Homo sapiens: one gene and its partners. The protein of the gene in region 3 purifies or fractionates together with the protein of the main gene of each other region. This does not show direct contact. Each region holds a gene or a part of one and is shown on either strand. Other genes may lie near its edges. The genes, in order: CSNK1G3, EEPD1 and GJB7.

Evidence for each region.
Region 1: the proteins of GJB7 (region 3) and CSNK1G3 purify together in Homo sapiens (affinity purification with mass spectrometry; 2 studies listed by BioGRID and IntAct, with this or other methods). This does not show direct contact.
Region 2: the proteins of GJB7 (region 3) and EEPD1 purify together in Homo sapiens (affinity purification with mass spectrometry; 2 studies listed by BioGRID and IntAct, with this or other methods). This does not show direct contact.

Annotation. Positions count from the first base shown.
Region 1 is NC_000005.10:123,615,363-123,617,710, reverse strand, and holds the end of CSNK1G3 (casein kinase I isoform gamma-3), read right to left. Parts: 3' UTR 662-2,348; downstream 1-661. UniProt on the Homo sapiens protein: Serine/threonine-protein kinase. Casein kinases are operationally defined by their preferential utilization of acidic proteins such as caseins as substrates. It can phosphorylate a large number of proteins. Participates in Wnt signaling.
Region 2 is NC_000007.14:36,156,212-36,159,872, forward strand, and holds part of EEPD1 (endonuclease/exonuclease/phosphatase family domain-containing protein 1), read left to right. Parts: intron 1-3,661.
Region 3 is NC_000006.12:87,287,691-87,291,351, forward strand, and holds part of GJB7 (gap junction beta-7 protein), read right to left. Parts: intron 1-3,661.

The DNA of each region.
Region 1 (2,348 bases), on a different chromosome or scaffold from region 3:
CTGAGACTACTAAGATGGTAGGGTAGAAGTCTCAAGCTGCTGGATGACCACTTTACCATGACACATGGAAAGTCTTCCTGACAGTGAAAACAGCAGGGTAGGAAAGCAAAACCAAAAGATATGGAGAAGATTCCTGTCTTAACTCCAGGATTAAGCATGTCTGAAGGCAGTCCTACCACTGAACTTTTCAGTTAAATGAAATAATGTACACTCTTATTGCTCAAGCCAGGTTAAATTCTGTCACTTTCAATTCAAAGAGTTCTGACTAATGCAACTATACATTCATTCAGACTGAAATCCCAATCTTAAAGTCGAATTTTTCTAAATAGAGCCTTTAACAGTTTTGTGTCATCTCCAGATCTTTCTCCTGCTTCTGAAGGTCTCTGCTGCTTAATGGACACAATATTCACAGGGTGAGAGAGGGCTGCTTTGCCTTTTCTTACCTGTAGCATCCCTCAGTAAGTAGCGTACCATTAATGCCATTTTGTAAAATCCCTTAAAGCACCTAGCACAATGATGAACTATGAGATACTGTTAGAAATATGGGCTCCCCATCTACAATGATTTTAAAGTCATTCACTTAAAACTGGAATAATGCTTAATTTCTGTGAACATAATAGTATGATTCCATTCTCAAAAAGGAAAAATGATGCTATTTCCCTTAATTTATCAGAAGATGTATTTAATTATTGCTCTATTAAACAGTTCAGAGAAGTATAATTTTTTTTATATTAAAGAAAGCTTAGATCCTTCCTAGTGTGTGCTTTTTACCACTGGATTTCAAGAAAGCAAAACAAAACATAAAATAACAAAAGCATATTCCTTTAGCTCTGCTTCTCATATATAACAGACTAAATAAACCAAATTTTTATAATTCCTATCTTAAATTAGGGAGTGACATTATTTTACCCATCTTTAGAGGAAATGGGAAAGAGCAAGTTTAAAAAAACTACTTTTATTTTTTTTTATTTCTTTTTCAGTTACATACTTTTAAACAGGGATGTGTTTCATTATTCAGACATTCAGGCAATGTTGACTTCATTAGTGTTGACAGAAAATAAGCATAAAAATGCAAAACATTGTTGGCTTAACCTGAACATACCTGCATTACCTATTATTGACCAGTTTGTGTTGCCAAAAGACTTATTCCTCGGCATTAAAATGGAGCACTTAAAAATATTGCTAAAAAGCAAATGCCTACACACTGGTCTTTGCAGCAAATAAGGGTATTTATACTTTTAAAATATTTTAAGTCCATAATTGGATTAATATACACACCTTCTTATGTATAAGGAGTTCAGATCATATAAACACTGTACAATCCAAAAAACCCTACTGAGAATAAAACTAAATAGGCTTATGATAAGAAATACAGATATTCGCATGTATTTACAAATATCATAGACACACAAGTTTGGTCAAATACTGTAAAGAAAGAAGAAGTGGTTTCACATTATAATGGCCAAAATGTTTATCTACCTTGCTCAAAGCAAATAAAAATATAAACTCAGTATGTAACTCCTGCAGTTTAAGACATCATGACAGTATACAGATAGATAGAAACTGTTGACCAAATTATACAGCAAATGTTTTGTAGGTTAAGTGTAGGTCTTTAAAATAAAAAAAAGATCATTCATAGGATTCATAGCAACAATGATAAACAATGTCCTGATTTGTGGTGTTCATGTGGGTGCCTAATTCATCAAAAAAAAATGCATTAAACTTTTGGCTAATAAGAAAAATAAATTACAAAGTACAATTAAATCCCTGTAAATGCAATAATGAAGTAAAAAAATGTAGCTTTACTTTAATATACATCTTAAATGTTACCTTGAGACAATAAAAATAAATAAGCATGCCTGGAGGCACACACTTAAAGACAACGAAGAGACTGCATGGGAGGAATAAGTAACAATTATATAAATGAAAGATGAATATGAGATTTATTCAAAATAATTATCTTTCTAGCCAGTCTTTGTTTTAACCCTTCTTGAAAATTTTGGCTAGTAGAATGTGACAAAACTACATGTGTGTCTTTATGGCTTAAAACAAAGCATACTTGAAAAGTGGAATGGGCTTCCTTTTTTACAGAATTTTTTGTTGTTGTTGTTGTTGTTCATATGCAGGCACTTCAAAAGACTATGGAGGCAAAGCACCTGACCCATCCTTTCCAAAATATTTTTCAATCATCAAAATTATGCTAAAGAGTAGGAAAATTCCAGAGAATCAGCAAAGTTGAATACAAGAGACTAATGTGCACAGAGGGCATAGAGTGACCCACTTTTTATTGCTGGGGGTCTTTTTTTTAATCAAAGAGCAAAATAATTACACAGACACCATTGCATGGC
Region 2 (3,661 bases), on a different chromosome or scaffold from region 3:
ACTCTCAGCGGGAAATCACAGTGCATGATGGCAGATCACCAGGAAAATTAGTGAGGAGAAAAGCAGGTCACAACGTTTCCTTGGCACTGACCCAGTGGCATGCTCTCATCACTGAGAGAGGGACTCCACACTGGGTCAGGGAACTGGACTGGGGAGCCCTTGAATGCTCTCCCTGCACTGCTGTGTCCTCTCTTTTGCAGCCTAACTCACTCCTTCTGCAAAGTCTTCTTGTGCACAGGTGAGAGCTGTACTCGGCACCGGGAGATATTTATAAAGAATGGCTTGATAATTGTTCTCTTTATCCATAGCAGCATGGGCGTGTGAATGGGAAATGAGGAGGGGAGAGGCAGGAAAGACAAAGCTGCTTAATTCCTATTATGCTTTCTAGTGGCTCAATTTGGGAGGGGGGTGATGGATTAGGATCAAAAGTTGGTCCAGTGGGACTGACCAACCAGGCAGCCCCTGCCTATTTATTATGTCAGTGGTTTCTAAAGTGTGGTCCCCCCTGGGGACCAGCAACATCAGCTACTGACTCAGAAACTTTGTTTCTGTGTTTTAACACACCCTCCAGGTGGTTCTGATGCACACTAAAGTTTGAGAACCATTGTACTAGGTGTTAGGCAATCAGCTGTCCCTCTGTCTCTTGGAAGCCCCTTCCTCTGGCAGGGTTAGTGAATTCATGCAGAACTTTCCAGGTCTAGTCGGCCCTCCATACCTGTGGGTTCCACATCCATGGATTCAACCAACTGTAGATGGAAAATATTCAGGAAAAAAAAAAGTTGTGTCTATACTGAACATGTCGAGTTTTTTCTTGTCATTCCCTAAACAATCCAGTATGGTAACTATTTACATAACATTTACATTGTATTAGGCATTCTAAGTAATCTAAAGATGAATTAAAATATACTGGAGGATGTGCATAGGTTATATGTAAATAATATGCCATTTTATATCAGGGACTTGAGCATCATGGATTTTGGTATCACAGGGGCTCCTGGAATCAATCTCTGCAGATACCAAGGTACAACTGTCATTTTTATTTTCCCCTTTGATTGTTTTGATCATCCTTATAATTATTCAACCTTGTGATATTCTTTCTGACCAAGCGTTGAGGAGCTTATTCATCTTCTAGGACCTATGAATGTGAAGGGTAGAGAATAGGAGAGTGAGCAAAGACGGCTGGCCTCAGCGCTGGCTCCACCCTGCAGCCCACTGAGCAGGAGACCTCACGACTCTTGTCCAGTGTGAAGGTTGTCCTGTTTTTTTCTTCTTTGGGTTTCCTAGAGAGATGATGATTTGCTGAAGACATTGAACTACTGTCGTCAGGCAAGAGTACAGGAAAAGTTTACCCAAACCCACCAGGGTGTAGAAGGGATCACCTGTAAGTGACTGGGAAGGTGACCCGCACCGTCACATTCTCACTCTTGGCCAAATGTGTTGGAGGTTGATGGTTCTCTTTGCCTGGTCACAATGGATTCAGTATTCCAGACACTCCTAGCACATTGTTAATGTTTAGTAAACATGAACTAATGGACTCAGGGCCTGATCCCCTTCAGAGTAGGGTGAGTGCTTTGTCTGTATGACTGTCCTAGGGTATCAAAAGCTGTCACAGAGTAGATCTCGTGTCCTCAATGATAGCAGCACCCATTCTCCAAGAGCTGTGTGTTCGTCCTGATTCACAGAAATCTCTCCCCTTCCAATTGTTCCCGTATTAGTAAGAGGAAATACATTTAGTATGAGCAAGAATGGGTGCAGGTGATTTCTGGGTGGCTCTTATTTACATCCATGTGTACCTGTAATAAAAGAGTTTCCTAACTTTTGGGTATGCCTTCGTGCTTTCTAACAGCTTTCCCATTTACTTGATTTTCCTAGTAAGTCTGGGATGTAGGTAACACTGACTTTTATTAATGATTCTTCATCTCTGGGTAAGGAAACTAAAATCAAGTAAGTTAGATGACATGACTCTATCAGGCAGCTCCTTAGTGACTCAGCTGGGACTGCGACCCAGACCTTCTCACTTTAGACCTATGCCCTTTGCAAGCATGCTGTGTTTTGTAAGCACGACACCTTTAACCTGCCTCTTGGTTAGACACCCATCCTCTCCCTCATCAGGCGCACTTGCTAAATTGTGAGCCAGTCACAGTGTCTTAAATTAAATCCATTGTAAAGGGATTTTAAAGATACCCTTAGGCAGTTCCTTTGCAAAGGGAATAGCTGGCTGTGAATTTGCTTTAGTAGGTGTGTTTTCTTAGGCTGAAGGGTAGCTGTATGGGATGGGAGTTAGAGTCTTCTCTTTAACCTTCTTACAGCATGTGTGAGCTATAAGAAACTGTTTTGCAAGTGAGGCGTGAGGTAGGACAGCATTATTTGATAATCATACAGTCACCAGGAGCCTTCAGGGATGCCATGCTGGTAGCACAGAACTGACAGGTTTCATTAGATTATTTTGCCAAATCTCAGTCTTAGGCAATACTCTTCCTTGTTCGGTATTTATGGAACAAGATTAAAGGGGAATGTTCCTGCTAAATATGCTTGCAAAATTTGGAGGTAGTCCACATCTGGAATGAAAATTGGTTAATATTTCATTTTTACTTATTTATTTTTTGCTGGGAAGTCATTCTGTTTTGAGAGTCTCTTTGGTTATTGAAAGTATAAACCCTAAGGGAGCTGAAAGATAATCTCCAAAAGAAATAAGAAGATTTAACATCCCACTTGCTCATTTTCCCTGTGGCCTACATAAGAAGAGAACTTGAGTGTCAAAGTCTTTAGCCCTGTAATGGCTTAAATCAATTTTTTTGCCACATGTCTGTGATATCAAAGCACAAGGTGGATTAATGCCTAGCAACAAGCACTGATAGTGAAAAAAGATTTTACTTTATTAGACTTGATTAGTAGGATCAATATAAACATATCCCATCTTGTCATTTGATTCATTCATTGAAAAATATGTATTGAATGTCTGCTGTGTGCATATATAAGCTAATTTCAGGGATCAGCTTCGCCCTGTTACTTACCAAACTTAAGTCAATGTAGATTAGTTTGTGTGGCCCAGCCTCAAAACAGTCTAGTAAACCTAGAGTTTTGGGGCAGGTCAAAAGGAGTGATTGATACATGGTTGTATTTTTCTCATATGAACAATAGGCTCACCCTGGGAGGTTGAAGGGTGGGTGGATGCAGCCAGACGTAACATCTGGGGACAGAATGCCCATCAATCCTCTTAAAGTAGAAATTGTGAAATCCATTTTGACACTTTTGGAAACTGAGGCTCTGAGAGGTTAAATAGCATCTGTGTGGCCTTCAGAAATGTAGATATTGGAGTCAGGATTTGAAGTTTGTCTACTTTCAAAGCGGAGGGATTAGGCCAGATTAGGCGTGTCTTTTCCCAAACTCCATGCCCTTCTGCTGCCTCTGACTCCCAGCCCACCCACATTTCCTCCCTGCCTTTGGCTGGCCAGGTATCAGGGTCTTGGGGAAAAGGAGGGCTTCCCTACAACCCTGAGATTGTGTCAGGCCTCTGGGGGCCTCTGTTTTTTCCCGTTTTTGTTCCTCTAAAGGATGGGGCTTGAGGCCAGAGGTAGAGCCAATCCAAAAGGCGTCAGGGCTCCTCCACCCAGCCCCTCAAGTGTGAGTCTGTGACCTTGGGCCTGACTCCAAGATCAAG
Region 3 (3,661 bases):
TGTCTGTATTACTCAAGAGGATATTTATGTAATCTTACTAAACATTTGAAAGTACCTTGTTGGGCATTTTAGAGGTAGGAGGAAGGTAAGAGACTGTGTTGCTAAAAGAAAGGCAACAAAAAAAAAGTGACTGATCTTTGAATATAATCAGAGGATGATGGCATCAAATGTCATAATTATGACTTTTATTTTATAAATGTCCATCCTATTTTTTTAAAAAAATTTTTTTTCAGATGGAGTGTTGCTCTGTTGCCCAGGCTAGAGTGCAGTGGTGCAATTTCAGCTCACTACAACCTCCGCCTCCCGGGTTCAAGCGATTCTCCTGCCTCAGCCTCCCAAGTAGCTGGGATTGCAGGTGCCCACCACCACGGCTGGCTAATTTTTGTATTTCTAGTAGAGACGGAGTTTCACCATATTGACTAGGCTGGTCTCGAATTCCTGACCTTGCGATCCGCCCACCTCAGCCTCCCGAAGTGCTGGGATTACAGGCATGAGCCACCGTGCCTGGCCCCTATTTTCAAAGGATGGAAAGACAATGGCATTCTTATTCTTTACAATAAGAATATACAAAATTAAATCTGAAAAAAATAAACCTAATAAACACTATGAAATCAGAGACCTATCACTCTTTCATATGTATATATTTGGTTCTTGTAACAATTGGAGAAAGCTGTTTATAGAATAATGTTTACAAAGCAAGCCAATTAACGGACATCTGGAAGGTTACCATGTCGGAAAATCATATAGTGAATCCTTTTAAATCTTTCTTGCCTCTACATATATGTCAATGACTCCCAAATTATGTATCTCCAGTGTGGACCTCTCATCTCTGACTTTCAGCTGCCTTCTTATCATCTCCAATAGGATGTCATCTCATAAACTTAAAATATTCAAAAGTGAAATCTTGCCAGTACTTTCTTCACTTTATGAAGCACCATCCAAAGCACTGATCCTTCTCAGTGTTCTCTGCTTCAGTAAACTGCACCACCATCCGCCCAAGTGTTGAAGCCAGAAACTTGGAAGTCATTCTTCATCCTTCTCTTTGCCTCAAACCCCACATCCAATCTACATTCAAGGCCAAAGTTTTTACCTTTGAAATACATACCAAAACTTTTCACTCTTTTCATCTGCGCTTCCACCACTCTAATCCATGCCACCTTCATCTCCTGCCTGGAACACCATAATAGCTTCCTATCTGTCACTCTGTTTCTCATTCTTGCCCTCTCCAACCCATTATCCATTCAGATTAACTTTTAAAATGGAGACTGTATATTCTCATTTCTCTGCCCTACCATGGTTTTCTGTTGCATTGAGGGTAGGGGAAAAAAGGCCAAACACTTATCTGGACAACAATAGCCTGTGTAGTGGTGCCCATGCCTGCATCTCCAACCTTGTCTTGCACATCTCCAAAGGATACTGGATTCCAGACATGCTTTCCTTCCTTCAGTTTCTCCTTTAGACACTACATCCATTCTGTTCCTCCTTCCTGCAATACTCTGGTCCCCTTAACCTGAATCAGAGTGGCTTTCCCTGACCCCACTAATCTAAATTAGGTCTTCCTTGGTATTCTTGTTCATTATGTTGGCTTTTTTTCCCTCATGCCACTTATAAGTTGTAATCATATACTTGTTTTCGTGATTAATATCTGTACAGACCACATGTTCTTTAAGAGAAGGAACTAGAGTTGCCAGATGAAGCAAAAATGTAGAATGCACAGGAAATTTTGAATTTCAGATACTACACATAACAATTGATTCTCATTACGCCAATTTACCAAGCAAGCTTCTGAGTAATAATTTTTTTCATGCTGAAATTGTTTATGCTGTGCAAGGAAGTCCTCCTGAAATTAGATACAAGAGTTCCAGTTCCTGGAGATGCATTTTATAGATCAGGTCTCTGGGCTTGGCTCATGTGGATGAATCCCTTAGAATAGATTGAGTAAACAATGTGCCTGACTTTCTGAACTTTTGGAAATGAGTGCCAGTTCTGACTGTGGTGACACTGTTGAAACCCCTGTTGAGCAGCCCACTTGTTCTTCTCTTATTGCAGGATGAGCTTTGCCACACCAGCAACTTCTTGCCCAACACTGGAGGCTTTAACTTCCTGCGAGGTTCAGGCAATGTCAAGCTGGCCTCTGGGAGGAAGACAGGCAAGGCTACCTGCATAAATACTGTCCAAAAAGCCCTTGCACTGCTGGGAGCCAGAGAGCTGCTTCGTCATTCCCCAAAAGTGCTGGTTTGAAACTTGTGTTCGAGGAGCACTGGATTTCCAATTGCCTTGCAGACTGCCAGCGACACTCCCTGAAAAATCCTTCAGCCTTCATACACAGCTCCTTTCACCTCTTAGTAACAAAATGCTCATCCTTGGGCACTTGACCATTTATGCAGCATTTCACAGCATCTCATCCAATGCTTACCTCCATCCTCAGTAGTAAGCAGGATGTATGGTACAACCTTCATTTTAGTGATGGAAGAACTGAAAAACTCAAAGAGGTGGGATACTCATCCAACACTCCCAATAAGTCAGTAGCAAATCCAGCAGTAGAAGAACCCAAGTTCTGCCTGGCTAGTTTCTACTCTCCCCTGAGTGCTGGATTCTCTGGTACATTCATAACTCTGTTCTGCCTTGCACACAAATCATCTAACCCCTGAAGAAAAGCATTTCCTCCCAGGGGCATCTTTCCATCTCTGAGTCCTGTTGTGCCTGCTGACACTAGCAAACTCTCATTCCCCATCTGAATGAGGCATTTTTATTTTTGAAGATGGCCTATTTGGAAAATCCCTAAAACAGTGTTTCCCAAACCCAGGATCTGTGGCCCACTGAGGGTTTGTTGTTATATTCTTAAGTGTCTACAAGAAGTTTATATGTACGTTCATATTCCTAAGCTTTTAAAAAACAAACAGAAAAGCAAAAAAGCTGAATGACCAGCTCATATTTAAGGACTGCCAGAGGATTTCAGCATTTCTGCACTCATATTTATGAGCATTCTGCAAACTACACAGCACTCAGGCCCAATCCAGTCCACCACCTGTTTTGTAAATAACACTTTTTGAGACTCAGCCACGCCTAAATGTTTACTGTTGTCGATGGCTGCTTTCATGCTAGAACTGCAGTGTGGAGTAGTTGCGACAGAGACAGTATGGCCCTCAAAACCTAAAATATTTACTATCTCGCCCTTTGCACAAAACATTTACATAGTACTTAAAATCATAATGGAACCAAGTACCAGAACTTTAATTATTTTAGCCTATGAGAAACAACACATAACGGGTATGCTCAAGAGAAAGCCAAATAAATGAAGCCACGATGGGTAGATGTACAGCAGGAATGAAGCCTGCTAGTAGTTTGATTGGAGACGAGTGGTAGACGACAAACAAGCCATTACCTGGCCCACAGAACAAGTGAGCCTAGCTTCAAAGAATCAGGCTTCTATAGTCAGTAGCTGGTTCTCTCAATGAGCAGTGATTTAGTTTCAGCAACATGATGTCTTTTGTCTGTTAAACTTTAATTATTTTAATTGTACTCGTTTTGTAATGTTCAATTTTTATTTTGTAAATATAGATGCATAAGAGCCATAAATCTACAAGTAGTTTTAGGTTTGATACATGTAAATAATTGTATATTAAAAAAATAATATAAAAAACACTTCGACACTAGGAAT